Linked DNA regions of Homo sapiens: regions 2, 3 and 4 are each linked to region 1. The links come from fine-mapping of genetic effects on gene expression. A gene starts in region 1. Each other region holds a variant in brackets. All regions are shown on one strand. Distances are between the middles of the regions. Region 1 holds the start of CTNNAL1 (catenin alpha like 1). Region 2 overlaps TMEM245 (transmembrane protein 245). Region 3 overlaps FRRS1L (ferric chelate reductase 1 like). Region 4 overlaps LOC105376214 (a long non-coding RNA gene).

What was found. PIP is the estimated chance that this variant, and not a neighbour inherited with it, causes the effect.
Region 2: its variant is fine-mapped to the expression of CTNNAL1 in whole blood (TOPMed, PIP above 0.99).
Region 3: its variant is fine-mapped to the expression of CTNNAL1 in lymphoblastoid cells (TwinsUK, PIP 0.95).
Region 4: its variant is fine-mapped to the expression of CTNNAL1 in gastroesophageal junction (GTEx, PIP 0.94).

What each region holds. Positions count from the first base shown.
Region 1 is chr9:109,008,889-109,017,034 of GRCh38, reverse strand. CTNNAL1 (catenin alpha like 1) reads left to right here and starts at 3,536. Exons shown (of 19, transcript NM_003798.4): 1 at 3,536-3,733. The coding sequence starts at 3,593. It overlaps TMEM245 (transmembrane protein 245), which reads left to right. Exons shown (of 18, transcript NM_032012.4): 18 at 1-1,900. RefSeq lists a silencer at 3,294-4,183 and an enhancer at 3,845-4,348.
Region 2 is chr9:109,064,901-109,073,046 of GRCh38, reverse strand. All of the region lies in intron 9 of TMEM245 (transmembrane protein 245), which reads left to right. Among named protein-coding and RNA genes, the nearest start is that of MIR32, 23 kb to the right of the region's middle. The variant C/T (reference allele first, on the strand shown) is at 3,727.
Region 3 is chr9:109,145,568-109,153,567 of GRCh38, reverse strand. It overlaps FRRS1L (ferric chelate reductase 1 like), which reads left to right. Exons shown (of 5, transcript NM_014334.4): 2 at 3,848-3,932; 3 at 6,379-6,517. Among named protein-coding and RNA genes, the nearest start is that of FRRS1L, 18 kb to the left of the region's middle. The variant C/T (reference allele first, on the strand shown) is at 3,396.
Region 4 is chr9:108,115,346-108,123,491 of GRCh38, reverse strand. The region is part of intron 4 of LOC105376214 (a long non-coding RNA gene); the gene reads left to right. Among named protein-coding and RNA genes, the nearest start is that of KLF4, 630 kb to the right of the region's middle. The variant A/G (reference allele first, on the strand shown) is at 4,364.

The sequences.
Region 1 (8,146 bases):
TCAGAAATTCAGGCTGTGAGGGGTTAGATTAGAGGAAAGTAATTTAGGTGAGCTATCCAGAGCTTTCAACCTCAGGGTTTATAGGAAAAAAAAACAAAATACAAAAACCCTTAGGACTTCTCATACTCTAGCCCTGACCTTGCAGTCTCCTCTGAGGGGCCTCCTAAGACCCTTAAAATAATATTACAATAGGACTTTGAGTGTGCATTTCACAGTGGAAATAGCCTCTGGCTAGCATTACTTCCAAATGCTAGTTCCAGCTAAAAACAAGTACTTTTTATTAGTTTCTTGTCTTTCAACATTCTGCCATCAAAATATATTCATTTTATTAACTTACCGATTATTGGGAACCTGCAAAAAAAAAAAAAAAAAAAAACACACATGCTGTCTGCAGCCACTGTTTGGTTATTTTTGATAGTTTAAGAGAATTATAAATCAAGTTGTTCTGTCTACTAGAGTCAGAAATTCTGTGCTAGAATGGGACTTCTAAAATTAGGTGGTCCTGTCACTTTCTAGAGAAAGACCCAAATTCATAGGTTTAAGTGGCTTGTCTGACATACACATACAGCCAGTTAGTAACAGAATTCAGAATAGAATAGAGTTCTTTTTTTTCTGTCAGTCCGTTGTTCTACTTCTCTTTCCTTTTCTTCATGGTTGAGCAGCTTTTGGCAAAATGTGTTCCATATAGCAGTAGTTCCAAGAGATGTTAATAGATGTAAGAAAAAAAGTGTGTGTGTGTTGGGGGTGGGGGATTGCATGGTCAATTAAAATGAAGGAATGCTGAGTTTGTTTCCTTACTGTAGGACTTCTAAGAGTTTTGAACATGCTATTACACATTGTGAATTTATAAAAGGGGACAAACACTGTTTGACCTTAGACTGCACTCCCCTTCTTTATTCCTCAGAGCATCTCAAAGGACTACAGGGTCCTTTGAGAAACATGGCCCTTGATCAAGTTTACAACTCTTTGAGAAGACATCCCTAATGGAAATACTGAATGGCAGATCTATTACTGTGGTACCATGTAGTGTGTAATAAATCTTGAAGTCCAGAAAGCAAGTATATTTGCTGTTTAGAGCTATACTTAAGGTATAGAGATTCTTTTCCACCTGTGGTGTGTAAAATCAGTATTGTGTTTAATTTTGCAGGTTTTTCAAGGATCAACTAATGTGCAAATACAGTGGTGATATATTGATATTACATTTTAATAATGCTTTTGTATGGCACTTTATAGTTTTCAGACACCTTTTGTAACAGCCCTGTGAGACAGACAATATTATCCTTATTGTACAGATGGGGGGGCTCTGGAGGCTCTGAAAAGTTTTTGGTGATATTCCCCTAAGTTTATACCACAAAATGATGGAGCCAGAATTTAGTTGCAGAACTTCTGACTCCAAGTCCAGAGTTCTTTACTAGACATCTGGTTTCTTACTAGCTTTTTGCTAGCTTTTTATTTTACAGTGAAAAGTATGGAAGCAAATCCTGATAATTTTGGCTTATTATCAAATATCATTTATTTTTTATTGCAGAGACCCAGCAGATGTAACTCTCATTGTAGCCATCCCAAAGAAAACCCTTCTTTGCCCTTTGCAGTGCCACTTATTTAGGTAACTGAAGTGTATTTCCAGTACAATTTGATTTTGAACTAAGATTTGATATAGAGTTGTAATTGCTTACATAACTCTTTGAAAATGTATCATCCCTGGGTTCTCAGGTGAAGGAGGCAATTCAAAAGTAAAAAAGAATATTCGAATACAATAAATACCCTCTGTTCTCACACAAATGCTGTTTCTTAGCTAACTTGCTTTGACAACCTACTGATGTAACTTCTTTATTAATGTGAAATATTTATATTTTGAAATAAAATTACTAGTGTTGAATGAATCATGTGGTAAACTTAATCTCCTGTGTGTTGAAAAACTTGATCTTTTGTGAAGCCAAAGTTTCATGAATCCATCCGTCTCTTAGGCCTTCTGTTATGCCATTTCCTCCGGCACCATTGTGTACACTGAATTCTTAGGAGATACTGTCAACTTCGTAAGGGAAGGTGTGTCCAGGAAGTGGACACTGGGCGCCTTAAAGAGGTCAAGGGCCCTCAGTGCACAGGGGAAGGTGGCCTTGTGATAGGTAAGGAAGTGGTGAGATGGTTGGCTGAGAAGAATTGGAAGAAAAAGTTGGATTGAGGACCTGTCCTTTTTGAATGAAGAAAAAGAAGCTGAAGCTTGGCTATCTTCAATACCAAAGACAGCTGTGCAGCACTGGTAGATTGATGAAGCTGAAGCTACAGGTTGAAGCACTGTGAAGCGCCTTTCAACGGTGCTTGGGAAAGAGCTTTCTTATGCCTCAGGTTGATGTACCCAGCTCATCAATCTGGTGTTATGGAAGAAGAAATGATCCAGGCCAAGGTGTCCGGGTGGACTGGCCAGCCTCAGATTCTTTTTTACTCTGACAGGTTCTCACTGGCAGATATGGTAGTTGACAAAACATTTTTTCATGCTTCTCAGTCTGTTGCTTAAGTCTGGAATTCCTTCACGGCGTGCATACTGCTGACAACCTCCTTTTGGCCTTGCTCCTGGAGACCTTAGAATAGGAGTCTTCAGCTCCCCGCCCCCATCGTGGGGCTCTGTGCGAGCTCAGAGTTGTGCTTACAGAACTGATTCTTACCCTTCCCCTCAAGTGAGTTGTCAGAAATACACACTTGGTGTTTTCATGCAATGAACAGTTATGAAGAAACTGCTCTGTGCCTGGCACTAGGAAAAAACTTCGAAAAATAGTTTTAAGAAGTAGTGTTGAACAGTAGATGAGGCTTTTTCATGTTTCTTTTAAATTTCTTTTGAATAAGTCTAAACAGTAGTGTGAAAGATATACTGACTTCCTGCCGAATACCCAGATACTCCATTAATGATTGCATTATCAAATGTTTCCCCTTCAATCCAGCTCAAAGTGTTTGTGAGAAATACATGGTGAAAGAATGAGCAGGGTGGAGTGGAAATTGGACCTTCCGGAGAAGCCCCAGGAAGACATTACCACTGGAATTCCCGTCCCAGGGGAAAGGCCCCTCCCAACAGACTTGATTCTGGTTTTGGTCTACCAGTTTCAACCCCAGCACAGCTTCCAGAAGTCTTTGCGGGAATTCAGAGCTGATTTAGGACGAGTCACCTATCGAGAGGACGGGAAGCTTTGCTGGGGACGCTTGTCTGTCCAAGTAAGAGGAGGCCATGTGGCTGTGTGACAGATGTGTTTTGTTTCTCCTCGCCACCCTGGCGAGAAGGTGCCTGGAACCCATGGAAGGGGTCTGAGAAGAGATAAGGGCGGGGCCATGTGGGGGCGGGACCCGGCTTAGGGGGTGGGGTTGCAGGGAGCCCACACCAGGCTGGACTGCGCGGGCGGGGCAGAGGCCGGGGGTGGGCGGGGACATACGGTGACGGGCGTCGGGGACGCAGGGTTGGCGGCGGAGCCCTGGGGGGGCGGGCCCCTGGGGGCGGGGTCTCGGTTGGCGCGAGTGTCCTGTCGCCGCCGCCTCGGGCGGGTGGGCTGACTGGCGGCAGGCTCGCCGCGGCGCGGAGTCCCGGCTGCGGGATAGACCGAGGGCCATGGCCGCCTCTCCCGGACCCGCCGGCGTTGGCGGCGCCGGAGCAGTCTACGGCTCCGGCTCTTCGGGCTTCGCCCTCGACTCGGGACTGGAGATCAAAACTCGCTCGGTGGAGCAGACGCTACTCCCGCTGGTTTCTCAGGTAAAGTGGCGCCTGGCGCGGCCCCTCTTCTCCTTCCCGCCGCGGCCCGCGATGGCGGCCGCCGCTCGCACGACCGGACGGGAGGCAGCCGCTGCCCCACTTTCCGCGCCGGCACTGCGGCGTTCTTGTCGGACCGCCTGTGTGGGGCTCCGGGACGGGCCTCGGCCCGGGCGGCGAGAGACTGGATAATCCAAACTCCGGCGGCAGGGTTGAGTGGACTCGGCAGCAGGGGAGGCTGCGGGGCGGGGGTGCCGGCCTGGGCCTTTGCCCCCAGTACCTGCCTCGGGTCTGCGGCTCCCGGGTGCCCCCGGCCGGGCGATGCCCCCTCCGCGGGGCGAGTGGTTGAGCCCAGCTCCCGAGGCAGAGAGGACCCCCGCGGGGCCCCTCGCTGGTACTTAGGGCCCTCCACGATAACCGACTTTGTCACCAGTTCGCAGCCTGGTCCCGAGCCCGGCTCCTCCGCCTGGGGTATTCCTCCCGGCCTCCCCGCCCAGCGTGCGCTCCCTGATCCTTTGTCCCTCCCCGCCGTAGGTCAGTTCGCTGGCCTCCCATTCATCCCGGCCACCCTACCCCTTCCCCTGAACCTGCTGCTGCTCACTTCTGCCCGCTTCTGTCCGGCCTCGTGGAAGAGTGACGTGGAGACTGTATGACAGTTAATCCAGATGCACACCGTTTTGCCAAGTCCCGTTTGGGATGTGTGCGTTACTGTATTTGCCAATCAGCTAACCGACGCCCTGAGTTTTAGGAAAGTTTTTGTTTCTCTGAGCTGGGTTATATGCAGCTTCAGGGCTAGAATTCCTCACTTAGGTCTGTGGTAAGATGCCAAGCACTGTGGGGAGTGAATTCTGTGCCTTCGGGAGCGCGTTGGCGATGTGTGACTCACATCTAGGTTGTAACCACTTCGTGACTCATACTAGGATTACCAAGATTTTAGAGGTAGAAGAAATCTTAAAGATTATCTGACTAAAAATTCTTTCTTTAGCATCCTTGACACCTGGCCACCAGTACCCTGCTTAAACATGTTCAGTGAAGGGGAGCCTGTAGCTGTTGCATAGAATTCTAAATGCTATTATCTCTTCTCCTGCCCAGCCCTGCGCATATTTGAAAACAGCAGTTACACATGTCCCTGGATTCCTGTTATGCTGGTTAAATAAACATCCCTATTTTCTTCACCTTCGCATGGCTAACGGAGCAGTGATGAATATATCTGACACTCTCCTTCCCTTTTCCTGTGTCTCATTGAGGCTCTGACCAGTGGGAAGGGGCACTGGGATCCCTCAGTAATGTCAGACCCTCCGCTCCTCGCCTATCTCCACTAGCACAACACAACCAAAACGAGAAACACTGGAGCAGTTTTAAGAGGCAGAGAGATAAGAGAGTGATGGAGTTCAAGTTGATAGTATTTTATCCATTTTTTAAATAACACCTATGTAATGCTTACTATGTGGTAGGCCAGGTTCTAAGCACTTTGTAAATATTAACTCATTAATTCTCATAACAATCATGTGAAGTTGGTATATATTCTCGTGGTATGGGAGAGGAAACTGAGGAATACTGAGGTTAAATAATTTGTTGTTAGGGCTTTCAATAAGTGCCAAACTGGGATTTGAATCCAGGTACCCTGGCTCCAGAAGGTTCTCTTTGCTACACTATGCTGTGTCCTCTCTAGAGATTAGAAGCAGTAATGAGATCTAGAGAAAAAGATGGTACATAGTGGAAAAACAAGCTAGAAAGTCATAATCTGGAGAAATGGCAACTTTTCACAGTATCCACTGCTAAAAATGTATCAGTCTTACAGCTCTGCATTGTGTAACTCTGGGGTAAAAGAAGCCAGAGAAGGGTAGGAGAGCAGAGGAAGAAAAGTATAAATCACTGCTGAGAGTTAGAGGTCAATGCCAAAGGGGAAGAATGCCTGCCTTTTTTTTTTTTTCTTTTTCCAGTTAAAGCCTTGTTCAGGGTCACAGCTGAGGTTTTGCATCCCACACATTGTGTATCTACAGCTACATCTCTACCACAACACCATAACTGATATTCCTCATAATTGACTGTCCTTAACAAGAAAAAGTTAAAATCAAGAAGTGTATTAAGCATGGCCAGAATACTCGGTTAACAAAGCAGGGAAGTACAATTTAGAATGATTTTAAAGTTTCAGTGTTAGGAGATTAAAACAGCAGTTCTCCAGAAAACTCATATGTCCACAAGTCTCATTTTCTGAGAATGCTGTATTATTACCCAACTCATGTTTCACCATCTCATCCACAAGGATATTTTAAGCATTTTAAGCAAGGATTTATTGTGTGCTTATTTGTTGCTGTTTTTTGAGGGGCTTATATTCTAGTTGGTAGATAGGTCATGTATAGAACAGCACATGCAAAGTGTCAAATGAACATCATCAATGGTACATACTCTAAAAGCTCAGAGAAGGCATGGATGAGTCAGCAGTGATGTCATGGAGGAGGCAGGGTTTTGAGGTAAACAAGTAGGACTGGCACTATACGGTTTAAAGTAGACAGTTTCTATTCTGGTATCATCTAGCTTCTTCTGACTCTCCAAGTGAAAAGTCCTGGGTTACTGGCCTTATTCTAAGAATGCAAGATTTTATCAATATTAGAAAAATGTGTATAGTTTTTTTTGCATTCACAGATTATAAAAGATGTATTTTCCTAACAATGATGCAGAAAAAGCATTCAACTAAATTCAGCTTCTAATAATGATAAGAAGCACTTAGGGAACTAGTGTTAGGAAAAAGTGTCCTTAACCTGATAGAGTATCTACAGAAAACTTTTACTTAACATCATAGCAACAGTCAAATTTAAAATAAACATTTCCTTTAAAGCCAGAAACCAGAGTGGGGTGCCTGCTATGCTTCTACTCAGCACTGCACTGGAAATTCTAGCCAGTGTAATATGACAAGGAGAAGAAATAAAAGGAATAAATATAGGAAAGGAAAAACCAAAAGTCTCAGTGTGATATAATAACCTATGCAGAAAACTCAAAACAGTCTACAAGTAAATTATAAAAATTAGGAGTGTTGGCAAGTTCACTGAGTGTAGGATACTAAAATCAATTGCATTTTTCTACATTGATAACAAACAAGGCACAGGCGCACTGGCTGGTGCCTGTAATCCCAGCTACTCTAGTCTCAGCTATTCAGGAGGCTAAAAAATGGGAGGATGGCTTGAGCCCAGCAGCTGAGGGCTGCAGTTAGCTGTGATCACGCCACTGTGCTCCAGCCTGGCCAACAAGGACCCTGTCTTTAAAAAATAATAAAAAAAAATAGAAAAAGTAATTATTAAAAAAATCCAGTTATATTAACAGTAACAGCAAAATATGAGCTTCCTAAGAATATGTTGCTTTTGCTATGTATATAAAGAGAAAGAGCTCTATCTCTATGTATACACAGCAAAAGTGGTCAAACTTCATGGAGAAAATTTAAAAATTTTATCAAAAGCCAACATGGATCTAAATAAATGGGAGAAAAGTACTGTGTTCAAGCCTAGGTTGACATATTATAGACATATCAGTTATCCCTATTGGTCAATTTAATGCAATTTCCATGAAAATTTCAGCAAGATTTTTCAGTAGAACTTGATAAAAGTAATTCTGAAGTTTATATGAAAGCACAAAGGGCCAAGATTAGGCAGAAGAGAAACAAGGTGGATGGACTTGCTCTGCCAGATTTCAAGACTCATTATAAAACTATAGTAATTAAGACAATGTGGGTATCAGAACAGGGTTGAAAAACATAGACCTGTGATACAGAATAGAAAACCCTAGAACAGATCCACACATATATGGAAACTCGGTAAATGACAATTGGCATTGCTGGTCAGTGGGGAAAGGAAGAACTTAAAAAAAATTAAGCTGGGACAATTGGATATCTAAATAGAAATTATGAAATTGGATCTCTGTCTCATACCAGTAAAAAGTCAACTTCAGATGGATTAAAGACAATATGAAAGTAAAAGCTCACAACACTTTTAGAAAAAAAAAAATAGGGCAGTATCTTCATTACCTTATGCTGGGAAAGGATTTGTTAGTATACCACAAGTATAAACCTTAAGAAAAAAATGGATAAATTCGACTTCTTTAAAATGAAGAACCTAGGCCAGGCGCAGTGGCTCACACCTGTAGTCCCAGCTCTTTGGGAGGCTGAGGTAGGTAGATCATTTGAGTCCAGGATTTTGAGACCAGCCTGGGCAACATGGTGAAACCCCGTCTCTACAAAAAATACAAAAAATTAGTCGGGTGTGATGGCATGCACCTGTGGTCCCAGGTACTCTAGAGGCTGAGGTGGGAGGATTGCTTGAGCTGGGGAGGTTAAGCCTGCTGTGAGCTGTGATCACAACACTTCACTCAGCCTGGGTGACAGAGTGACAGAATGAGACCCTGTCTCAAAAAAAAAAAAAAAAA
Region 2 (8,146 bases), 56 kb before region 1:
AGATAGATTGAAGAAATTATCCCCATTTTACACATGAGGAAACAAGATCAAAGGTTAAGGAACTTGAGATAATAATTCCGCAGTGGCAGAGTCATTTATAACCACTGCTTCTGATCAACTGAAGGAAAGTTTCCACTATAACATGGAAACTGTAACTCCTCAACTTTCTATATAATTTTTAAATTTATGTTATTTATTTATTTTTAAGAAATGAGGTCTCACCATGTTGTCCAGGCTGATCTTGAACTCCTGGGCTCAAGCAGTTCTCCTGCTTTAGCCTCTGGAGTAGCTGAGACTACAGGTGTACACCACCATGCCCAGTTTTATAATTATTGACATATTCCCATATTGTATTATTTTTGAGGAAGGATAGGTGAACTATGGCCCAGGGCCAAATTCAGCCACCTCCTTTTGTGTTGGGGACCAGCCTCAACACCACCCGTAGGGTACCTGAAGTTCGGTGGCGACAAAGGAATGAGAAGAGACAGGTACAGGTTAAGAGTTCATGAAGGTGGGAGTCGGGGCCAGTTGCATAATGGAGGCTGCAAAAGGCGCTGAGCTCTGGTCTCCACACTGTTTATTGAGTGTAATCACTTAGATCTAAAAAGCAGATGTTCAGGGTGAAAACACTGAAAGGGAGGCAGTACATCATAGGTGTAATCTATAGCAATAGCGGTTTAAATCAATCTCCTTTGTGCTCAAACAGCATATCTTTAACTTGTTGGAGAGTAGCTAGTGGGAGCGGGCTTAACTAGGAGCCTGCACATCTGTCCACATTCCAGTGTTTCAAGGGAGTGTCTTTCTCCTTGAACACAGTGTTTACAGATAAGAGAGCAGGTCTTGCTCTGAGTATGGGAACATGATGGCAATTCGGAGACTTTTCTACTCAGAGGCCTCTCATGGCTTTCCACAACTTATTGTCCCATATTTTTGTGGCCAGTTTATACAGGCACCCCACAAGCCCTTTTCCCAACACTTTGGTAAATGAAGTTTTAGTGGAACATACCTATGTCTACTCATTGACATATTTTCTCTGGCTGTTTTGGGGCTTCAAGGACAAACAGAATTGAGTAGCTGTGGCAGAGATTATATGTTCTGCAGAGCCTAAAATACTTACTCTCTAGTCCTTTACAGAAAAATTTGCCAACTTCTGTTTTATAGGATCTCTGTGTAATTTGGCTTCTGGAAGAAGGGTTTTCAGTTTTTGTGGGGGATGTTCAGCAGAGCTGTGTTATCCACCTAACAACTTGATGACACATTGTATGACCTGCCTTTTATTAACCTCAAGACAGTCATAAGTCAGGAAATATTCTGCCAGTTTTAGGCTTATAAGTTGAGATTTAAGTTGATTTTTTTCCTTTGCCTCTACTTTATTCTTTTATATAAAACCTGCCTAGGACATTACTTGAACTTGATTTAGAATAAAATTTTTTTTTTTTTTTTGAGACAGGGTCTTGCTCTGTCACCCAGGCTAGATTAAAGTGGCACAATCATGTCTCACTGAAGGCTTGATCTCCTGGGCTCAATCATTCCTCCCACTTTAGTCTCCTGAGTAGCTGGGACTACAGGCATGAGCCACTATACTCGGCTAATTTTTATATTTTTTGTAGGAGTTTCACCATGTTGCCTAGGCTGGTCTTGAACACCTGGGCTCAAGTGATCTTCCCTCCTCAGCCTCCCGAAGTGCTGGGATTACAGGCATGAGCCACTGTGCCTGGCCTATTTGAATCTTCATAAAAGAAGTATATTTCTTTTGAAATATAAATTGTGGTATATTTATGCAGTGGAATATTATACAGCATTAAAAAAAATGGACTAATGATACATGTACCAACATGGATGACTCTCAAAATAAGTATGTTGGCCAGGTGCGGTGGGTGGCTCACGCCTGTAATCCCAGCACTTTGGGAGGCCGAGGCGGGAGGATCACCTGAGGTCAGGAGTTTGAGACCAGCCTGGCCAATATGGTGAAACCCCATCTCTACTAAAAATACAAAAATGAACTGGGTGTGTGGCACACACCTGTAATCCCAGGTACTTGGGAGGCTGAGGCACATGAATCGCTTGAACTCGGGAGACGGAGGTTGCAGTGAGCCAAGATTGCACCACTGCACTCCGGCCTGGATGATAGGGTAAGACTATGTCTCAAAAAAACAACAATAAAAAAGTAAGTTGAGTGAAAAAATTCAGACAAAAAGCCCAAATGGTACGATTTCATTTATTTAAAGTTCTAGGAAATGCAGACTAATCTGTAGTGACAGTAAGATTAATGGTTGCCTGTGGATTGGGGTGGAGCTCTAGGGAGGACATACATATAGGTGCAAGGAAATTTTTAGGAGTGATAGATATGTTTATTATTTTGATTAAGGATATAAGTAGAGAAGTAGAATCATCATATTTCATTCTAGAACAGGCTTTTCAGCTGCTTTGTGGAGAAAAGATTGAAGGTATACAAGATGTAAACCTTTGAGACAAATTAAAAGCTTCTAGAGTAAACCAGATGAGAAGTGACAAAGCCCTGAACTGTAGACAGTTTCAGTGGAGGTGAACAGGAGGGACAGATTTATAAGGTCTTAAGGGGGTTAGTTGGTGATTAATTGGATATAGGAGGAAGAAATCTAGCATGACTTATGTTTCTAGCTTTGGAAATTAGTGAGTGATGGTGGATTCACCAAGACAGGAAATAGAAGAGCAGATTTGGTAGGGAAACTAATTCCCCTGTTTACCTGTTGAGTTTGAGGTGACTGTTGTAAGTAGAGGCATCCAGTAGGCTGTTGACTATGTAGGTATGCGGTTCAGGAGAGATGGGGTGAAGTTAAAAAATGGGCAGTTGCTGTGTAAGTCCAGGAATCAGATGAGAGGTCTGGGTTGGATCTTGAGTTTTGAGAAGCATCAGCATAAAGAATGTATGTAAGGTACAGAGAGGATGTCTGGAGGTGCGCCCTGTGGATATCTTAAGCCTTTAAGGGTGAGCAAAAAACAATAGGTTCACAAAGGAAAATGAGAATGGGCTATGAGAAAGGTAAGAGGAAAACCAAGGAAAGAGAACGTTTTGAGACAGTAGTAGTGGTCAGCAATGTCAAATTGCTGCAGAAATTTTCTAAGAGTGAAATTGGGTTTAGCAGCTGCAAGAGCAGTTCATTTAATTGGTGTAGCAGAAGCCCATTAGATTGCAGTGTGATGAGAAATTATTGGGAACGAGGAACTAGAGAAAGCAGGTATAGACTGCTCTTTCCCAAGTTTGCCTATGGAACGTAGCTGGGAAGGAGGTATAGAGCAGTTTTGTTTAATTTTTTAAGATGGAGAAGCCTTGTTTGTATGCTCCAGGGAAAGAACTGGTAGAGTGGAAGGGGTTGTAAATATTAGGAGAGAGATAATTCTTAGTGCATTTCTCTGAGGATGAAGCATGAGATGAATCCATGGCACGAATGGAACAGCTGGGGAAAGCAGGTCAGAATGGATATGGATATAAATACTGTGAGTTCAGTGGAGCGGGGAAGGCGGGAAATTAGGGGCCATACATCTTTGAAGTAAGAAGTGAGGTCTTCTGTCCTCTGGCTCTTTGGATATAATACATTTTAAAAGGAGAATGGGAAAAAGGAGGAACCAACATGTATCAGGTATGGGATTTTAGGAAGGAGCCACCTGGGATCTAGGCAAGTGGATAGAGCCTTTCATAGGATGATAGACCTTCCAAATGTTGTCCTCTAGGGCTCAGCCTCAGCC[C/T]TCACATCCAGAGGGCTCCTTTTCTTTGGGTCATTCTTCTGTACTGGAAGTCAATGCAGAGCCCTTTTGTACCGGTTTTGAATAGTAGCAGCATTCTCTCTGCAACTGTATCAAAGGCACACAATCTGAGCAGCCCCAGATCAGGTAGTAGAAGAAAGGTTTGTCTTTTGTTTGAAATTTTGAAGTAATAATTATAGATTCACAGGGAGTTGCAAAGACATATACAGGGAAGACCCATATACTCTTCACCCCATCCCCTCCAGTGTTGTCATCTTGCATAACTATAGTACAATAAAACCAGGAAATTGGCATTGCTATAATACACTGACCTTCAGATTTCATCCTCTATGTAGCTTCATGTCAGCTATCAACACACTCAGTACATAACTGTTACATTGCAGGCTTCCTCATGCCACCCCTTAACAGCCACACCCATCCTCTACCCTTTCCTTCAATATTTCCCTAACTCTTAGCAACCACTGATCAGTTCTCCATAGCTATAAAATCATTTTGAGAATAATACGTAAATCCAGTCATGGAGCATGCAGCCTTTTGAGATTGGCTTTTTGTTGCTTAGCATAATTCTCTTGAAGCTCATCCAAGATGTTGTAGGTATCAAGTTTGTTCTTTTTTATTGCCAATTAATGTTCCATTTAGGAAGGTTTTTGTTTTTGTTTTTGTTTTGACACAGAGTCTCACTCTAACCCAGGCTGGAGTGCAGTGGTGTGATCTTGGCTCAGTGCAACCTTCACCTCCTGGGTTCAAGCGATTCCTGTGCCTCCCAAGTAGCCGGAATTACAGTCATGTACGCACTACCATGCCTGGCTAAGTTTTTTGTTTTTAGTAAGAGAGGGTTTTACCATGTTGGCCAGGCTGGTCTTTGAACTCCTGACCTCAAGTGATCCACCCGCTTTGGCCTCCCAAAAGGAAGGCCTTTTTTTTTTTTTTTTTGAGATGGTGTCTTGCTCTGTCGCCCAGGCTGGAGTGCAGTGGCGCGATCTTGGCTCAATGCAAGCTCCGTCTCCCAGGTGCACGCCATTCTCCTGCCTCAGCCTCCCGAGTAGCTGGGACTACAGGCACCTGCCACCACGCCCGGCTAATTTTTTTTTGTATTTTTAGTAGAGATAGGGTTTCACCGTGTTAGCCAGGATGGTCTCGATCTCCTGATGTCATGATCCACCTGCCTCGGCCTACCAAAGTGCTGGGATTACAGACTTGAGTGACCGCGTCCGGCCAAGGAAGGCTTTTTGAAGTTGCTTAGACTTTGGTGATTCATAGAAGGTCTGATTCTTTTTCAGCAGATAGGTGGGGATGGGATTGGAAATAGTAGGGGTCGGCATGAAATAATGATAATGGTTTCCTGCATCTCTCAGTACTCAGTGGATTCTGTCAGCAGGAGGGCAGTTGACCTTGTAGGGGATTCATGTAGATACTCCTAGTGGAGAAGATACAGTTAAGAATAAGTCCAGATGTCCTTTCTTCCAACTTGGTGTGGTTTTATATGGCCCATGTAGTCCCTTGACTTCTGCTGGATGTGCCTCGTAAGCTGGTGGGTAAATTAGACAGATTAGGATCATCTTAGTGGAGCTCTAAAGAAAATAATGATGTTATACATACTGATTCTTGTCTTCGGCAGTTGTTAGTCGGGAGCTCATTTTCTGCTTTCTCCTGACTTGTCTCAAGCCTGTTGATTCCTGTGCCTCAGGACCCTCATTAGGAGATGGCACTGAAATGGTTCTCAGTTGCACTTATCCCTTCGCTTACTTGGGAGAAACCCAGTAGGCTAAACTAAGTTGTTTTTAATCAGGGTTGTTCTCTTGGTAGGTAGTAGGTGATAGAGATTAACCTTTACCCAGGAAGGTGAAGGCAGACCAGTCTAAACTGTAGGGCATTGGTTTCTGCTGAGGGATCCCTCTTGAGTGAGTAGGGGAGTTAGTGATAGGCTGAGGCAGTGAATCTCCAAGGAAGGAGCTCAGTTCAGGGGCTGTAGAGGTGTAAGGCCGGAGTACAGCCCAGCTAAGGCAGCTCCTGTGTTTCTGGCCCCATGTCTCTTGAGGGAGGCTGGGACTGAGCCAGTACCTCTACCTTGTCCCCAAAACAGCTCCTCTCATTTGTTGCTCTTAGGAAACCTGTGTGAGTACATTGGGAAAGTGTTTTCATAGTGGCCAATAAGACGTTTTCCCAGGCCCAATAGACATTTGTGAATCATTAAGGATCTGTCCAGATACCTCTATGAATCTTCACACTTTTTTTTTTTTTTTTTTGAGATGGAGTCTTGCCCTTGCCGCCCAGGCTGGAATGCAATGGCATGATCTCGGCTCACTGCAACCTCTGCCTCCTGGGTTCAAGCAATTGTCCTTCCTCAGCCTCCCAAGTAGCTGGGACTACAGGCGCACACCAACACACCTGGCTAATTTTTTCATTTTTAGTAGAGACGGGGTTTCACCATGTTGGCCAGGCTGGTCACAAACTACTGACCTCAGGTGATCCACCCGCCTCGGCCTCTCAAAGTGCTGGGATTACAGGCGTGAGCCACCATGCCCTGCCCATCTTCACACTTTTGAATAACACTACAGGAGAGTGTTATCATTATAATATATAATATCAATATAATACCAATATATCAATATAATATCAATTATAAGTTACCATATAATTGAAAATATTTAGCAGTCCCTTCAAGCCACTGATGAATGTATAAAAGAGTAATTTAAAAGCTACTTAATTTCTCCCGAATCACATTTCAGTTTAGTGACCCAGATTTCCTGTTTATATGCTTATACTGTAAATTATTATATTTGTGTCTCTAAACGTTTGAAATTTTGTCTTACTTGCTGAGAAATTTTTTTTTTTTTTTTTTTTTTTTTTGAGACAGTCTTGCTCTTTTGCCCAGGCTGGAGGGTAGTGGTATGATCTTGGCTCATTGCAACGTCTGCCTCCTGGGCTCAAGTGATTCCTGTGCCTCAGGCTCCTGAGTAGCTGGGACTACAGTTTTGTGCAACCATGCCCAGCTAATTTTTGTATTTTTTAGTAGAGACGGGGTTTTGCCTTGTTGGCCAGGCTGGTCTTGAACTCTTGGCCTCAAGTAATCTGCCTGCCTTGGCCTCCCAAAGTGCTGGGATTACAGGCATGAGCCAGCGTGCTGGCCTTGCTGAGAAATGTTTGAGTGGACTGAGGCATTTGCCAAGAAGTTTCACAGATACTTTATTTGGAGTGTGGGACAAACTGGTTAATACTTAAGATTCAACCCACTACTGGTTTAATAGTCTACTTTTTAATTTATTCAAAAGATCTCTTATTTTTTTCTGGTTAAAGACCACTTTCCTAGGCACCATGACTTTGTGGCTGTCAGTGGCAACTGACTTTCTCTTTATGACCATCTTTCTCATACACAGCACATAAAGTTGCTGTGAGTTGAGGATGTTGCACATTTGACTTTACCTAATTGACCCTTTTGTGTTAGGTTTGTAGGATGTGTCATTTTGGGGCCTCAGGAAAGTAAATGACTAGCTTCTGCTTGCCTTCACCTTTTGGCTTCACTCTGGAATAGTTGAAATGAGGACTGTTAAATTTGTGAATGTCAACATCTCCAGCGTATATTATTAAGAGGAACAATTTAGATAATACGTGAACATATTTTCTCTTGTGGAAAACATTAGGATTGTGTAAAGGATTCTTGATTAAGGTGTATGGTACAGCCTGCTTAGTCAACAGAAGAATGAGGAGGCCACCTCTCACTGCACAACAAGTAAAGCTGTGGGCTATAGTTCCTTGCATAGTTGGAACTTTGCTCAGGAATTCTATCTTTAAAAGATCTTCAGTAGATAACCAACTTGAGGATAATGATTCACCTTCTTCATTTCCTGCATTCTTTCTGATTTCTTCACTTCCTTAGATTAGTGATTCTCAAACTGTAGCATGCCATCAGTATCACCTGCAGGGTTTGTTAAGGTACAGATTGCTGGGCCCTAGTCGTGTTCCTTTTTCAGTAGATCTAGGTTTGGGCCCCCAATTTTTCATTTCTAACAGGTTTCCAAAAAGTTCTGATGCTGCTGGTTTGTGGACCACACTTTGAGAACCCTGTCCCAGATGTTGAATATCCCAGTCTCCCAGAACCATTTTCTTTGGTGCTGAATAAGGCAGGTGACTCAGGACATGTGAACAGAGAAACCAGGCAGAGTAGAATGAAAGGGAGGTTGTGGGGAAAGTGGGTCTAAAAGCTAAGGAAACATTGAGGCCTGGTGCCATGGCTCATGCCTGTAATCCCAGAACTTTGGGAGGCTGAGGCAGGTGGATCACTTGAGATCAGGAGTTTGAGACCAGTCTGACTAACATGGTGAAACCCTATCTCTACTAAAATACAAAATTAGCCAGGCGTGGTGACGTGCCTATGATCTCAGCTACTTGGGAGGCTGAGGCA
Region 3 (8,000 bases), 140 kb before region 1:
AAGTGCTATTTTTACTATGACAGTTTTATTATAAAGGATACAACTCAGGAACAGTCAATGAAAAGACACATAGGGTGAGGTCTGAGAGGCTCCCAAAGGCAGAGTTTCCATGCCTTCTCCTCGTGGGATTATCACATTGCCCTCCCAGCACATCGATGTGTTCAACCAGGAAGCTGCACTGGGCCGCAGTGTCCAGAGTTTTTATTGGGGTCTCACTATGTTGGAATGATTGATTTAATCATTTGGCCACATGGTTAAACTCAATCTCCAGCCCCACAACCCTCCCTATAGGTAGGTCTAGCACAAAGCCCCAACCTTCTAATTACATGGTTTTTCCAGTGACCAGCCTCTATTCTTAGTCATCCCGTTGCTCAGCATAAACTCAGGTGTAATCCAAGGGGCTCATGAAGAACAAAAACACTCCCATTACTTGGGAAATTCCAAGGTTTTAGAGTTTGTCTCCCAGAAACCAGGGACAAAGGCCAAATTCTTTATTTTTCAACAGTTTGCAATATAAGAGGAAAATGTTATTAAAGGCATGTCCAAGTGCATTTGACAGAACACAAGTTCCTATTACAAGTTTTAGAAGCATATATGATAATAGAAAATTAGTGCTAGAAAAGTCCTGAGAAGCCATTTGCCAACATGAATAAACTAGTTCAGAACATTTATGAGCTAGCTTTGTTCCAAAATTTGCTTTCATTTGGAGTTTAGAAACCTGTTGTTCTTTTTTTTTTTTTTTTTTTTTTTTTTTTTTTTTTTTTGAGATGGAGTCTCTCTCTGTCACCCAGGCTGGAGTGCAGTGGTGCGATCTTGGCTCACTGCACGCTCCACCTCCCGGGTTCATGCCATTCTCCTGCCTCAGCCTCCTGAGTAGCTGGGACTACAGGTGCCCACCACCACGCCCAGCTAATTTTTTGTATTTTTTAGTAGAGACGGGTTTCACTGTGTTAGCCAGGATGGTCTCGATCTCCTGACCTCATGATCTGCCCACCTTGGCCTCCCAAAGTGCTGGGATTACAGGTGTGAGCCACCATGCCCAGCTGAAACTTGTTGTTCTTAAAGAGACAATCGTACCCAATGGTTATTACTTCTCAGGCCAGTTTACAAAATTTAATAGGGCCAGGCGCAGTGGCTCATGCCTGTAATCCCAGCACTTTGGGAGGCTGAGGCAGGCGGATCACGAGGTCAGCAGTTCGAGACCAGCCTGACCAACATGGTGAAACCCCGTCTCTACAAAAAATACAAAAATTAGCCGGGCGTGGTCGTGGGTGCCTGTAATCCCAGCTACTCAGGAGGCTGAGGCAGGAGAATTGCTTGAACCCAAGAGGCAGAGGTTACAGTGAGCTGAGATTATGCCACTTCACTCCAGCCTGGGCAACAGAGCAAGGCTCTGTCTCAAAAAAAAAATAGTGATAATAATCCAGTAGTAATAGTAACTGGTATTTATTGAGCTGGAAATCTGCTGTATGCTAACGTATTATTCTAGATGCCAGGAAGTAGTGAGGATGATATGTTTGAAAATGGAAGAAGATGGGGAACCTGAGTCAGATGCAACATTAAAAGAGATTGTCTTTGTCAGTGAACTCTAGAATTTCAAAAACATGTAAGTGAACAATCATTGAATTCCTGGATAAATATTCTGAGACAAATGGCCTCAGGACTGTAGTGAGAAGTAACAGGAAGAAGATATATGAAGCTGCTTAACATACAGTAGTTTGTAGTGGCTCAATAACTATTCAGAAAAAAACAAAACTCGTTCAAGTCAGGACTCAGTCTATAGCAGTGAACCCCAGCCTTTTTGATACCAAGGACTGGTTTAGTGGAAGACGATTTTTCCATGGACTGGGTCAAGGGGAAGGTTTTTGGGTGATTCAAGTACATTACATTTATTGTGCACTTTATTTCTATTATTATGACATTGTAATATATAATGAAATAATTATACAACTCACCATAATGTAGAATCAGTGGGAGCCCTGAGCTTGTTTTCCTGCAACTAGAAGGTCTCATTTGGGGGTGATGGGAGACAGTGGCAGATCATCAGGCATTAGATTCTCATAAGGAGCGTACAACCTACATCCTTCACATATGCAGTTCACAATAGGGACTGCACTCCTATGAGAATCTAATGCCACTGCTGATCTAAGAGGAGGTGGAGCTCAGGCAGTTATGCAAGCCATGGGGAGTGGCTATAAATACAGGTGAAGCTTCGCTTGCTTGCCTGCCACTCACCTCCTGCTGTGCGGCTTAGTTCCTAACAGGCCATGGACTGGTACTGGTTAGTGGCCCAGGGATTGGGGATCCCTGGTCTCTAGTACTGAAGCAGATATAGGACTTAGCATAAAATAAGCATAAAACTAGAAAAAGTAATGCATTTGATCCAACTACTTTGGTGGTAAAAAGTTAGGATTGTACTTTATGATGTGATCAAGGTCCAGGATAGTAAAAATGGACTATTCAGAGTGCACAGAAGTGTGCCAGAAAAGTGTGACCTGGTGGCTTTTTTAAAGTATAATAAATCTAATGGACAAAATTAGCAAAGCCTCACTTTAAAAAAAGTAGCATTACAAATCCCAAAGAAAAAACTTAAAAATAACAAGAAAAAAACTCATAAAATAGAATGATTTTTAAAAGTTTGTACTGATTTACATTTCCTAATGTCTGTGGGTGATTTTATTTATTCCTTTGACAATCATTTATTCAGTGTCCAGTGCCAAGCACTATGCTGGGCAGAGAATACAAGATAAGTCTCACATGATTCCTGTGTACGTGGAGTAAACAGCCTAGGAGAAAAGATTTCTCTCACAAAGTGGAGGCATAATGCAGCCTTACCCTTCAATGTATGGTTTGATGCATTATGGTGGTAAGTAATCTTATAAGAAAGATAGACAACTGTTAGAAATTATGTGTTTAAAGAATTTAGCGACAAGTTGGGTATGGTATGGTTTGATGCATTATGGTGTATGGTTTGATGCATTATGGTGGTAAGTAATCTTATAAGAAAGATAGACAACTGTTAGAAATTATGTGTTTAAAGAATTTAGCGACAAGTTGGGTGCGGTGGCTTATACCTGTAACCCTAGCACTTTGGGAGGCTGAGGACTGTGGATCACTTGAGGTCAGGAATTCGAGACCAGCCTAGGCAATATGGTGAAACCCTGTCTCTACTAAAAATACAAAAATTAGCCGGGTTTGATGGCCGGCGCCTGTAATCCCAGCTACTCGGGAGGCTGAGACAAGAGAATCCCTTGAACCTAGGAGACAGGTTGCAGTGAGCCAGGATGGCACCACTGCACTCCAACCTGGGCAACAGAGGGAGACTCTGTCTCAAAAACAACAAAAAACAAAAACAAAGAATTTAGTGACCTAAGAAAATGTTACCTACAGGTTAA[C/T]GCAAAATGGAAGTTGAAAATGGAATGGAAAAATCCTGTTATCAAGTATATAAATGGAAAAATCCCACTATCAAGTATATAAATGTATCACTGTTAACTTTTTTCTCTTAGAACATGTATATTGTATTAAACGTGTGATTCTCAAACTCCCAGGGGACAGCGGTAAGCCCGTGGTTATATGAAATTGTGCCTCTCTCAGTGCCCCAGGTTCCTCTCCTGTAAAGTGAGAAAAGGACACACCTACTCTCAGTTCACATGCAAGATTAGGTCCAAAGGTGTGTGTCCTACACCCTCCCCCATGAAGGGGATGATTAGCCTTCATCAAAGCCATTTTCTGAGTCCCCAAACATTTCTCGATATGTGTGAGAAAAAACAGTCAACACATTTTTAAAAATTCTCATTGGAACAGTTGTTACTGGATTTTCTAACCCTTCTTTATTCTCACTGCCCAGGTTACCCCTTCCCTACTGCTCCTCCTGTGGATCCATTTGCCAAAATCAAAGTGGACGACTGTGGAAAAACTAAGGGATGCTTTAGGTTGGTGGAACTGCAGGTTGGATAACTTTAAGGCTAAGACTGATTTACTTCTCAGGGTAGTATTTAAATTGCATGCAGTTCCTTCTAATCAGGGGGCCTGAGCTCCTTGATCACCTCAGCAGGGTTATGAAGTTTCGTAACGGCCATCCCGCTTTTCAGTCTTAAAGGCCTTTTAACTTTAGTATGTCCTGGGCCCGGGACCATTCTTCCATGGTTCTTTTCTAGCTGTACCACCATTGCTCCAGGTGTCTCCTACTCACCAATTGCTGATATGCAGAAGACTCATGTGACACAGAACGTGTCTGTGCTTATTCAGCAGGGGCTGTGGGCAGGACAGGCAATGATAGACATGTTTAGTACCCAATTCCTTTTTTAGTAAATAGTCCTGACCTATGGATATCTGTATGATTCTAACTAGTCATTAAGCATTCATTGTTGCTAGCTTGTTATCTCAGGCATGGTGAGTCTCTACATGATTATTAGTAGTATCACGACATGACGGGCTGGGCTAGAAAACAGTCATGTGGACAATGGGCCTCCCATCTAGACAGCTCAGCTTCTTTGGGAAAGCCTCCTCCTTTGAACCCTTTACTTCCTAAAACAAATTGCCCCTGAATAATTTGATGGTCAGGGGCAAAGTTTTGATGGTCACTGTACTGAAGGTTCTGATTTTGCTGTTGTTCAGTACTTAAGGTCTAAGAAGGAAAAATTGAATACAGGGGCTTTGAGCTTTCTTTGGATTACAAGGCCACTTCTAAGGAATGAATAAAAATAGCCAAAAATGTTCTTATTGAGGAAGATGGTCAGCAATGTATAAACCTGGTGATTGGGGGATATTTTGAGAAGGGAGGGAATTTTAGTACTCTACTGGCTTCAAAGTGACTTGTTTTCTTGTCCATTTACTCCTTTTTTTAACTTCCCTTGCTCCTTTTCATCTTTTTCACCCCAGTGCCCTGTTGCCTTGATCCTATTATATCTCTTCCTGACTGCTCGGGTATTTCTGCCAGCATAGTAGTACATTTCTGTCCCCTCCTCAACACTTAGCACCCCTGTGCCCTGTTCCTTTAGATACCTTCCATCTGCGCGTATATTGTCCCACCCATTGCTTCAACTTTCTACCATTCTGCAAATGGTGTAATACAGTGTTCCTCAAACCAGGGCTTGCCAGTTCTGAAAGGATCCACAAGTGCTCTGTAAGAAAATTTAAATTTGTGTTTTCATTTCAGTGGTGCTCTCAAAAAAACATGAATGTCTGCATAATCTCACTATCTGGATAATCACCTTATATTGTTGTATGTTTTAGTGTCTGAATTTGTAATTATATTAGCAGCAAGTAGCCCAACAGAACAAAGGCAAATTTTATAAATAAGGCCAAGCACAGTGGCTTGACTGTAATCCCAGCACTTTGGGAGGCTGAGGTGGGTGGATCACCTGAGGTCAGGAGTTCAAGATCAGCCTGGCCAACAAGGTGAAATCCCGTCTCTACTAAAAATACAAAAATTAGCCAGGTGTGGTGACCCATGCCTGTAGTCCCAACTACTTGGGAGGCTGAGGCAGGAGAACTGCTTGAACCCAAGAGGTGGAGGTTGCAGTGAGCCAAGATCCCGCCATTGCACTCCAGCCTGGGCAACAGAGTGAGACTGTCTCAAAAAAAAAAAAAGAAAAAAAAATTGTAAATAAATATTGCATTCATTCATGGTTCATGAGTACCAGATGGGGGTATTCATTTGGTGTATCGCATAAATAAGGATTTTGCAGCAGTTCAAACAGATAAAAGTGAAGAGTTGAGCCATCATGCTATAGAGAGTAGTAAGAACATGCTCTCAACTCCAAAGACCCTGCACGATCTAATCGGATACCACATGCACATAAGCAGAAATTTACTTTCAGTAAAGCCCCATTATCTGTTGCATGAGTGCTGTGAATTTCAATGTTCCTGGTTTATTAGTTTAATTTATATTGAATTTGTAAATTTGTGTTAGTTTGATTATATGAAAATTTGTAAGTTAAAAAGAGTTGGTATACATTTAATTAACAGAAACAATTTAAATGGTTAACTTGGAGAATCTTTTTCCATTAAAAGGGATTCAGAAATAATTCAGTAGTAACTAACATGTAAAAGACTCTAATACTAATATAATGTAGAGAACACTGGCTGGGAGTTTAGATACCCAGATTCAAGTCCTGTTGCAACCGCTGACTTCACTATACAACCTCGGGCAAGCCCCTTCCCATCTCAGGACTGCAGTTCTTGTGTACAAAGTGGGGCAGATCATCTCTAAGGTTCCTCCTAAGAGAGTGAAACTGTGTTTTTAAGATTCCAGGTAGCAAAAATCCAATGTGTTTAATAATATTGCTTAGCATCCCACATGATACATGGTAGATGCTCTCTTAATGTCTTTTGTGTAAGTAGAAGCAGTAAAGTCTCTTTCGATATCTCTTCTAGATATGGCAAACCAGGCTGTAATGCAGAGACCTGTGACTATTTCCTCAGCTACCGGATGATAGGGGCTGATGTAGAATTTGAGCTGAGTGCAGACACAGATGGTTGGGTAGCAGTTGGATTCTCTTCAGACAAGAAAATGGTAAGATGCAAAACATGATAGAAGCTGATTTTTTCTCTTTAGTTGGCTGTGCTATTTTGATTTTAGAAGCAAGTTAATTGATCAAAGCAGTATAATGATCAAATTAGTTATGGCTCTCTGATTGCAAGTTAAAAAAAATTCAGGCTAGCTTAAATGAAAGGGTTGGCTATCAGAATCCAAGCTGTCTTGTGGCACCTCTTTTCATCAGCTGTTTCCACAGTAAGGCTGCAAGAAGAGGCCCCCATGTTATAAGCCTTATATGGCTTATAACAATGAGCATTTATTGCTTGCTCACATGTTCATGGATTGACTGGGGTGCAGCTCATTTTAGGTGGGGTTCATCTGGACTTGACGCCTGTCCATGAGTTGGATTCAGGTTTTCTCTGTGTTTTCACTAGTCATCCAAGGCATATTTTTTTCATGGCAGAGGCAGAAGTGAAAGAACCACTTATAAGAGGGAAAAACAACTTTTTTCCGTCTCTACTCATATTCTCACTACAGAAAGAATACTTCTGTGACCAGATGTGTGGGGGTGTTCCCCCACACCCCAAGCATTTCTCCAGTGGACAGCTAGGTGTCCTCTAATTCACTTTGTTTCTGACACTACCTACCTGGAGATAGCATTAGATCCCACAGGTTAAGGGTTCAAAACCACAAGACTGCCCCCATTTCAGACACCCGTCACAAGCCCCAGGTTGTGACCTGTATTTCTGACCAGCCAGCTATAAATCTGGGGTGCCACCACCCTCTTCTGTTCAGTTAATCTCCTGGAGTGGCTCACAGAACTCAGAGAAACACTTTACTCATTTATTTATTTATTTATTTAATTTATTTGTTTGTTTGTTTGTTTGTTGAGATAGAGTTTCGCTCTTGTTGCCCAGGCTGGAGTGCAATGGTGTGACCTTGGCTCATTGCAGCCTGCACCTCCCAGGTTCAAGCGATTCTCCTGCCTCAGCATCCCAAGTAGCTGGGATTACGGGCACCTGCCACCACGCCCTGCTAATTTTTTGTATTTTTAGTAGAGACGAGGTTTCACCGTGTTGGCCAGGCTGTTCTCAAACTCCTGACCTCAGATGATCCACCCACCTCGACCTCTCAGAGTCCTGGGATTACAGGCATGAGCCACCGTATCCCACCTACTTTACTCATTTATTATGAAGGCTATTTTGAAGGATACAGATGAACAGTTAGATGGAAGAGACACTTAGGGGAAGGCATGGGGAAGGGAGTGAGGAGCTTCAACACCCTGTTGGGTGTGCTACCCTTCAGGCACCTCCATCTGTTCAGCAATCCAGAAGCTCATCCGAACCCTGTCCTTTTGGGTTTTTTTTATTTTTTAGACAGAGTCTCGCTCTGTTGCCCAGGCTGGAGTGCAATGGCATGATGTCGGCTCACTGCAACCTTTGCCTCCTGGGTTCAAGTTTGATTTTTCTGCCTCGGGCTCCCAACATAGCTGAGATTACAGGTGTAATCCCACCTGTAA
Region 4 (8,146 bases), 890 kb after region 1:
TCAAGGGTGTTAAAATAATAAAATCTGGGTAGGACCAAAGGCAGCCCTTCAATGCTCTTTTCCCTAAATGTTCAAACATGAGTATGACAGGAATGTCTTCATTTAACATCTAAATTTTCAGGAGACTACTTCCTGGGATAGGGCAGAAGGAGAGAAATCAGAGATGGACACTGGATGAAAAACATCAAGCCCCAGTCTAGGAGACCTGAAGATTTGTAGCACAAAGTATTTAGAAACATCTTACTTCGACCAAAGCAGTGCCCTGTGAAGTGTTCACTTTTAAATGAATCTCGTATTTCAACAGAAGCCAAATGATCCTTCACTCTGTTTTTGAAACTTCCAGCAGTCAGTCAGTTACACTCTGAAGTGAGGCCCAGTTGCAGATGCAAAGGCATCATTTCCACCCGGTATGGGGTAAACGCATCTGATAGCAATAACCTAAGCAAACACTTAGAATGACCCTGTATGGCAGACGCATGTGAATGTGTGTTCTGAGCTAGGGAATCTGGAAGTGGCCAACTCAAAGATGTATTCCTTGTCTATGAGAAACATCTGAGCTGCACCCCATCCTGTGGAACATGGGGCTGTAAGGGGATTGAGGCACTGAGTTTCGGATTAAGTAAAGGTTGCTAGATGGAGGTCATTATGGGGAGGGTGTTAAGTGAAAACGCTCTATAAACCGGATGATGTTTGCAGGTGATTGCAGTTTTTCTGCCCAGCCCACTGCCACTGGGCTATGCGGTTATCTTGTCCAACTCACACCACTGTGTTACAGGTAGAGGGTCTTGACTTAAGTTGTCCAGGTTCTTTGCATTTTGAGCAAAGAATTGGACAAAACGTGCAGCAAAGCAAGGAAAGAATGAGTCAATGAAAGACAGCAAGCAGGGATTTATTGAAAATGAAAGTACACTCCACAGTGTGTGAGCGGGCCAAGCAGCAGCAGCTCAAGGGCCCGGATGCAGAATCTTCTCAGGTCCAAATACTCCCTAGAGATTTCCCATTGGCCACCTCATGCTCACCTCATGTAAATGAAGTGGTGGCCTGCAATCAGTCTGATTGGTTGCAGAAAGCAACCAGCCAGAGGATGAAGTGGAATTACAAAGGTCACACTCCTGTGCAAACATCTGATTGGTTGATTTTTGCAATCAGAGGCTAAGGTGAAGTTACAAAGTTGTACTTCTATGCAAAGGAAGACTCAGTCCACAATAAGTCAGCTTGGTTGTGCAAGCCAATTTCCCATCTGCCACACAGAAAAGGTGGGGGATTTGCAAAGGGAGTAGCCTCTGGTCTTTTAGTTACTTGGGAGTGAAAAGTTAGAGTTTTCTTTTCAATTTAGTTCTAGGAAGTTGGCGTGAAATGGCCTTAGGTTCCCTGCCTCCAGACCCTATTCCTCTGCCTCAACTGGACTCTCTCCCCTGTATGTAAACCCATAATGAAACCCCATGTCTTGTTTGCTGGCTCTGGGTTTCTTCTTGGTCCTCTTGAACCTGGTGTCTTCCCTGCTGAGGTTATTAGAAGTTTGGAGACAACACCCAGTTGCAGTTTTACATCCCTAACTCTCATCACAGAGCACCCTAAAGGGTCTCAGAAAGGAGCCCAACACAGGGCTCTGGAGGTGAGTCATGGGAGGTCTTAGAACTTTCCATTCCAAAGGTTTCCTCTCCCAGTTTTCTTTCTCTCGGCACTAAAATTACGTTTCGATGTAAGACTATCTAGTGTACATTGCCCTTGGTTCCATCTTTGTGTTTTTTGGTGGTTTTGTTTGTTGTGAATTTATCTTTTAATTTTTATTGAACATATACTTTGGCCAAATTCCATGTCAAATACTTTATATGAATTATTATTAATCATTAGAATTCATTTCATCCAATGAAATAGTTCCATTGTATTATTATCCCCAGCTTACAGAAGAGGAAACTGAGGTTTAGAGAAATGATTTTACTTGTCCAAATTAAATCATAAGGATTGGAAACTGAAGTTGTCCCCAGATAGCGTGACACAGGAGCCCACGTTTTAAAGCCATGCACTGTATTCTGTCTCAGGGACTATTTCTCACCTACACAATTACAAATTTCCCCTGGCTGGTCTTCTTGACCCTAGTCCAGTCTCCAACACTCCATCCTTCATAGCAACCTCCAGTGTAACTTTTTAAAAACTTGACTTAGCGCTATTTAAATGTATGCTGACATAAAAGTAGCTATACACTCCTTACACTTGTAGCTCTCTTAAAACTATTAAACTCAAACATAAAAATGACACAATTCAAGTGGACAAACTAGATTTATTCAGTTAGATATGCTGAAAATGAATTATTCAGTTGAGGTTTCACAACAAATTTCAGATAGGTATATTTCACTTGATGATGACTTGAACTTCAGGATCCAAAGTGTTTCTTCTTTTTTTTTTTTTTTTTCCAGACAGGGTCTCACTCTGTTGCCCAGGCTGAAGTGCGGTGCCACAATCTTTGCTCATTGCACCCTCAACCTCCTGAGCTCAAGCAATCTTCCCACCTCAGCCTCCCAGGTACCTGGGACTACAGATGTGCACCACGACACCTGGCTAATTTTTGTATTTTTCGTAGAGATGAGGTTTCGCCTTGTTGTCCAGGCTGGTCTCGTACTCCTGGGCTCAAGCAATCCTCCCACCTTGGCCTCACAAGGTGCTAGGATTACAGACTTGGGCCACCATACCCAGCCCCAGAGTGATTGTTTCTAATTCAGATCTGACCACCATCTCCCTGACCATCAAGATCTGGACTCTGACTCCTGTTCAGTCCCATGTGTCAGCCCCTGTGCACTTCTTTGCACTTGACATTCTCATCACAACACAAGATGGAGAGTTCCCACAGCAGGCTTTTGGGTGCACGCTGCTGCTTCTGTTCTGACTGTCCACTATCTTCACCTATGGGACGAGCTGCTTAAAAACCTTGCCAAAGTGCCACTTGCTCTGAGAAGCCCTTCCAGGTTCTCCCTTGGACAAACTGTCAGCCCATGAACAAACTGGGTACCTTGTATGCATCTCTAGTATACTCATCCTGTACTATAATTGGCTTGGGATGCATATCTTTCTAAGTGAATGTCTCATAATCAGGGACAATGTGACAACCATGATCATTTTTGTCCCTCTATTACAGATTCAGAGAGAAAAAGCAATTTGTGCAAAGTCACACATAGCTGCGTCTCTAGGTGCCTTAGTGTGGTGAGGGGTTCCAACAGCAGGATTGCTATTCAGAGATCTTACCTGACTGTTTCCCTCCATGAACTGTGGTTCTGAATGATGTTGGGTTTCTTTCATTGTTTCTTTGGTGACTGAGCACTTGAAGAGGGAGTCAAAAGTCTTGGGTTCTTGCCTTGTCGTTGGTAGCTTTATGTGGGACCTTGAATTAGTCTCGCCCTCTCTCTGGGCCTCAGTTTTCTCATCTGTCAAGTGAGGGTGTTGGGCCAGATGGCACTGAGCCTCCTTTGATTTAGTGCCCTGCATACGTGTAGCTCACATGTCCCGGGTGACCTTGTCACGTCAGCAGCCCGGGCTTTGCCAAAAGAGCTGACTGAGCCAGGCTGTGTAAAGGGGCAGGGAAAAGAATGGCTCCTTCACATAGGCCCTTTACACGGGGCGAGTGTTATCGCCAGAGGAAATTGACTCAAGGAGATAGCACCTTAGTATCAGAGCAAGCCAGGCTATCAGTGGGCAGCCCCCACAATCCCAACCCTCCTTGCCAAGGGTGCCTCAGGCTGGGTGGCCTTCCTGACACACAGCAAATACGGTGCCAGGCCTAAGACAGAACACTGTGGGAAAGTGCAGTATAGAGTCAGGCCCTGGGGCCTGGGGGGACTCGGGCAGGCCTGGGCAGCTCTCTGTGGCCCTCATGGCATCCAGGCAGCCAGATCTCAGGCTCTGTCATTTCTACATTTACTGTGATGGAGAGAGACAGTATTTCCCTCGAGAAAGACTCTGCTGTTCTCATGGTGCTCCATCCCATGTAGGTCTTACCTAGACCCCTGTCCTTCTACCCTGTGCTCTCCATAGCTGAACCAGGGAATACCCAACACTGGTTCCATTCTGCCTGCCATTTTCCAGACTTAGGGAGCATTGGGCAGAAAGCATTTAAGCAGCTTCAGCTCATTTCTCAGGAGCTGTGTCAAGTTTCTCCAGCTTTTCTTGCCATCTTTGCTGGGCCAACTTCACCTTAAGCTTCAAACCTTAGCCATGGGTCACCTGCCCCAGGAGGCCTTCGTTGACTGCCCATGGTCTAGGTTGGGCACTGAGCCTGGGGTTGTCTTCTACTTTGGCATTGTCACTATTTCCTGGGTTCTAAGCAGTTAGAGAAAAAAGGAAATCATTTTTTCCCCTCACTCATCCATAC[A/G]TTAGTTAAGCAAATATTCTTGAGTGTTCACTCCCTGGGAGACACAAAATACATTGATTTAAAAAAACAAATAAACAGCCAAAAGTGTTCCTCGATGTCACGGTACATGCAGTCTAGTAAGGGAGTTAATAAAATCATAATCTAATACATGAAAAAAAAATTGAAACTTACAGGTGTTAAGAACAGCAACTACACAGCACACTGACTAGCAGGAGAATTTAATATAGTCAAGGAGGTGGGCAGAGAAGTGCTGACGGAGGTGAGGAATAGTAGGAGTGATAGACAAAAGGAGTCAGGAAGATCATTCATGTCTCATTGATCTGTGTCCCCAGCCTATCACAAGGACTAGGATGAGGTAATTACTCAATAAATGCCAATAAATATGGAAGCCACATTTTCTGCAAAGTTGGCTCTAAGGCCAGGGTCCAGTACCTGCCTTGGTCCATTTGCCCTGTCTCTGTCTCAGGGAATGTTTTCATTCCACTGTCATCCTAAGAAATGTCCCTGTCTCGCCCATACAACTCCTTCTCAGATCCAGTCTTTTAAGTAGCCTTGACCTGGAGGCTGTAGCCATACCATCTGCTGCAAACCTTCATATGTCCTCTCTCAGTGAGGGTCTCCAAAAATCATGCACCTCTGCTTCCTTTCCCCAAATAACCCATGTGGATTTCTACCTGTTCTGGTCTTTTATGCCCATGGACACAGTTTGCCTAAACTACCTGACCTTCTCTATTGCCGTAACTCCAGCTATTGCAAGTTTCAGCTTGCTGATTTGGCTCTTTTGAGCATGTTCTCTGCTTCTCCAAGTGCCTCCCTGTCTCCCAGGGACAGGATTAGTTCTGGGATCCAGACATCCTTGATTAATGCAGCAGACCAGCCATGCCCAACACCCTCCTGAGACACTACCCAAATTTTCTTAATGTTGGATTCATCACAGCCAAGAACACATTTGGTTAATCAACTCTCTTTTTCCCAACTGGAGCCACTGTGATAAAGATTGAAAATGTGCCCCCATTGTAAGTGGCTACTGTTTCCAATTACATATGCTTCTCCCAGCCACCATGCAATCTGTTCACTTCATGCTGGTTTGCAAGAGCTGTTCGCACCAAACCATTGACAGCCACTATCTAAACTGAAACCATCTGCTTAGCCATTTGCCATGCATGGCTGGGTCTTGCAGGCTTACCCAGTTGAGGCCCCGTGGAGCAGTCCATTAAACAAGCATGAATTAACGCAGCCTGTTTTTATTAAATGTCTTGCAACTGATGGGAAGATGGACAAGCCTGTCTGGCAAGGATAATGGCCAATCCTCACAGCATCTGAAGTCTTGGATAAATTCCAGCAGCACCCCGCACCTCAAGACCATTCATTGAGTGTTTCAGGAGTGTGGTCGTGCTTAGAAACAATTTATCTGTAAAAGGCTTTTTAAAAGATTTTATGGTTTCTCCTCTTTCTTGTGAAAAAAAAAAAAAAAAAAAACAACAAAACCAGCCATAACTTATACTCCTTCTGTTTGTTTGATATTATTACTTAGATGGAAACTCAGGGAGAAGCAAATAAGAGTGACTAAGAACTTTAGTAGAGTGCCAATATTTACTGTTGCAGTTATCAAATCCAGAAGATGGGGTGGTAGACTTTTTTCTTACTGATACGGGTGGCCTGCACAAGCATCAGGTCTGGCATATTCAGTAAACTTCAATAGGTTTTCATGCATTTTGTCTAAATACCTTGGCCAATGTAGTGAGGCCCTAGGAGACAGGATATTTTGACCCACTCACACTAGAGTCTGTACGGCTGGAACTTTTTCTGAGCATTGGAGAACACGTCAGTGATCAAACCCAACAGCACCCCCAATAATTAAGAAAATTCAGCAAACTCTGCCAACTCGGATTCTAGAGTCATCAAGCAACTTTCTTACACTTTGACTTCCTAGATAGAAGAACTACCTGTGAGAAGAGACAGGGCTCTTGAGCATATACAAGCATCCATTTCACTTGATATTCTATTTCACGCTGTAAAGTAATACAGTGGCATAATATAGTGGCATTCAAGGTTTCTATTATTTTTTTTTTTGAGATGGAGTTTCGAGCCCAGGCTGGAGTGCAATGGCGTGATCTCAGCTCACCGCAACCTCTGCCTCCCGGGTTCAAGCGATTCTCCTGCCTCAGCCTCCCGAGTAGCTGGGATCACAGGCATATGCCACCATGCCTGGCTAATTTTATATTTTTAGTAGAGACGGGTTTTCTCTGTGTTGGTCAGGCTGGTCTCGAACTCCCGACCTCAGGTGATCCACCTGCCTCACCCTCCCAAAGTACTGGGATTATAGGTGTGAGCCACCACGCCCGGTCATCAAGGTTTCTATTATTTTTTAAATAGTTTAAAATGAAAGAAGTGAATTCATGAGAAAGAGTTCAAGCAAAGAATGGTACACCCTCCTCCTCTGCTGAGGATATTCGGAATAGTCAACATCCATCAAGCAATTACAGTGGACTCTGACTACAAACAAATGGGTCAGCCATGCTGGCATGGTCAGGTTGAATATTTGTGCTGTCTCTCCTATGGTCTACTTTTATTCACTCAAAATTAGATGAATGAAAACCTTTTAACTTCGGTCACATTCCTTACCTTCATTGATCTGCTCTTTAAGAGCACATACTGAGATGTTTGCAAACACTGTTATCAGTATCAGTTGTAGGAAATTCGCTTTGGTATTTGCTGTTAAGACTACAATTAGTCTGTGATACACTGATTCATTCATCCAGCAATCAATTGTTGAGCTTCTAACTAGTCATATCCCTGCGCTCTAGGAATCTAAAAATGAAGAATAGTGTGGTCCCTCCCCAGAAAGCTCACACTCCAAAGGAGAGGGTCTTGGTCCTTTGTGTTTTTCAATGTTCTTTATGTCAAGTCCTAAATCAGGTGTTACTTTAAAAATACAGCCCCAAGGAAAAAGGAAAAGAAAAACCCAACAAAGTAGAAGTACAATAATCCCCCCAAACACTTTTATCTTCTTTAATCAACTTTTAGAGCTTTTGCTGCTCTGAGAATAAGTGCTATAGAATTTTATACTCCTACTTTTGCCACTGCTGGAAAACTCAGAGCCCAGTATGATCCTCCACCATGTCAAGGAGAATTATATTATCCTATGAAGCGCCCAATCTTTCCCTTTTTCTCATTTTTTGGTTCTGCTTTACTGTTTATTTTTTAGTGAATTTCCATATGCCTGGCCCTTACTGTAAACAGACTCAAATCCTTTTTGGATAGAGCCTAAAGTTTTATATGTATATATCACTTTATATATATATTTATTTATTTATAATATATATAACAATATATAATTTATATATTATATATAACTTTATATATAATACATATTATATAACTTAATATATAATATATATTATATATAAAGTTATATATAATAGTTATGTATATTACATATAACTATATATAAATTTATATGTATTTATATTTATATTTATATAAATATATTTATAAAAAATATACATAACTATTATATATAAACATATATATATGTTTTAATAAAACATGATTCGGTTTATGGCTATGTCTTCTGTTTGGACCAGGAAAAAGGAATTCCAATGCTCATATTATGGAGAAGTTGTAGCCCTCTTTGCTCATCTATGCCTTCTTCTCCGACCTCCTCCCTTTCTCTTTTCATACTGTTTGATGAGCTCTTGAGGTTGTTGATTGGAGAATACCAATATACTGAAAGGGTCATCTGGCCTGTTTCTAGGAATAAAAATTATGGTTATGGTTTAT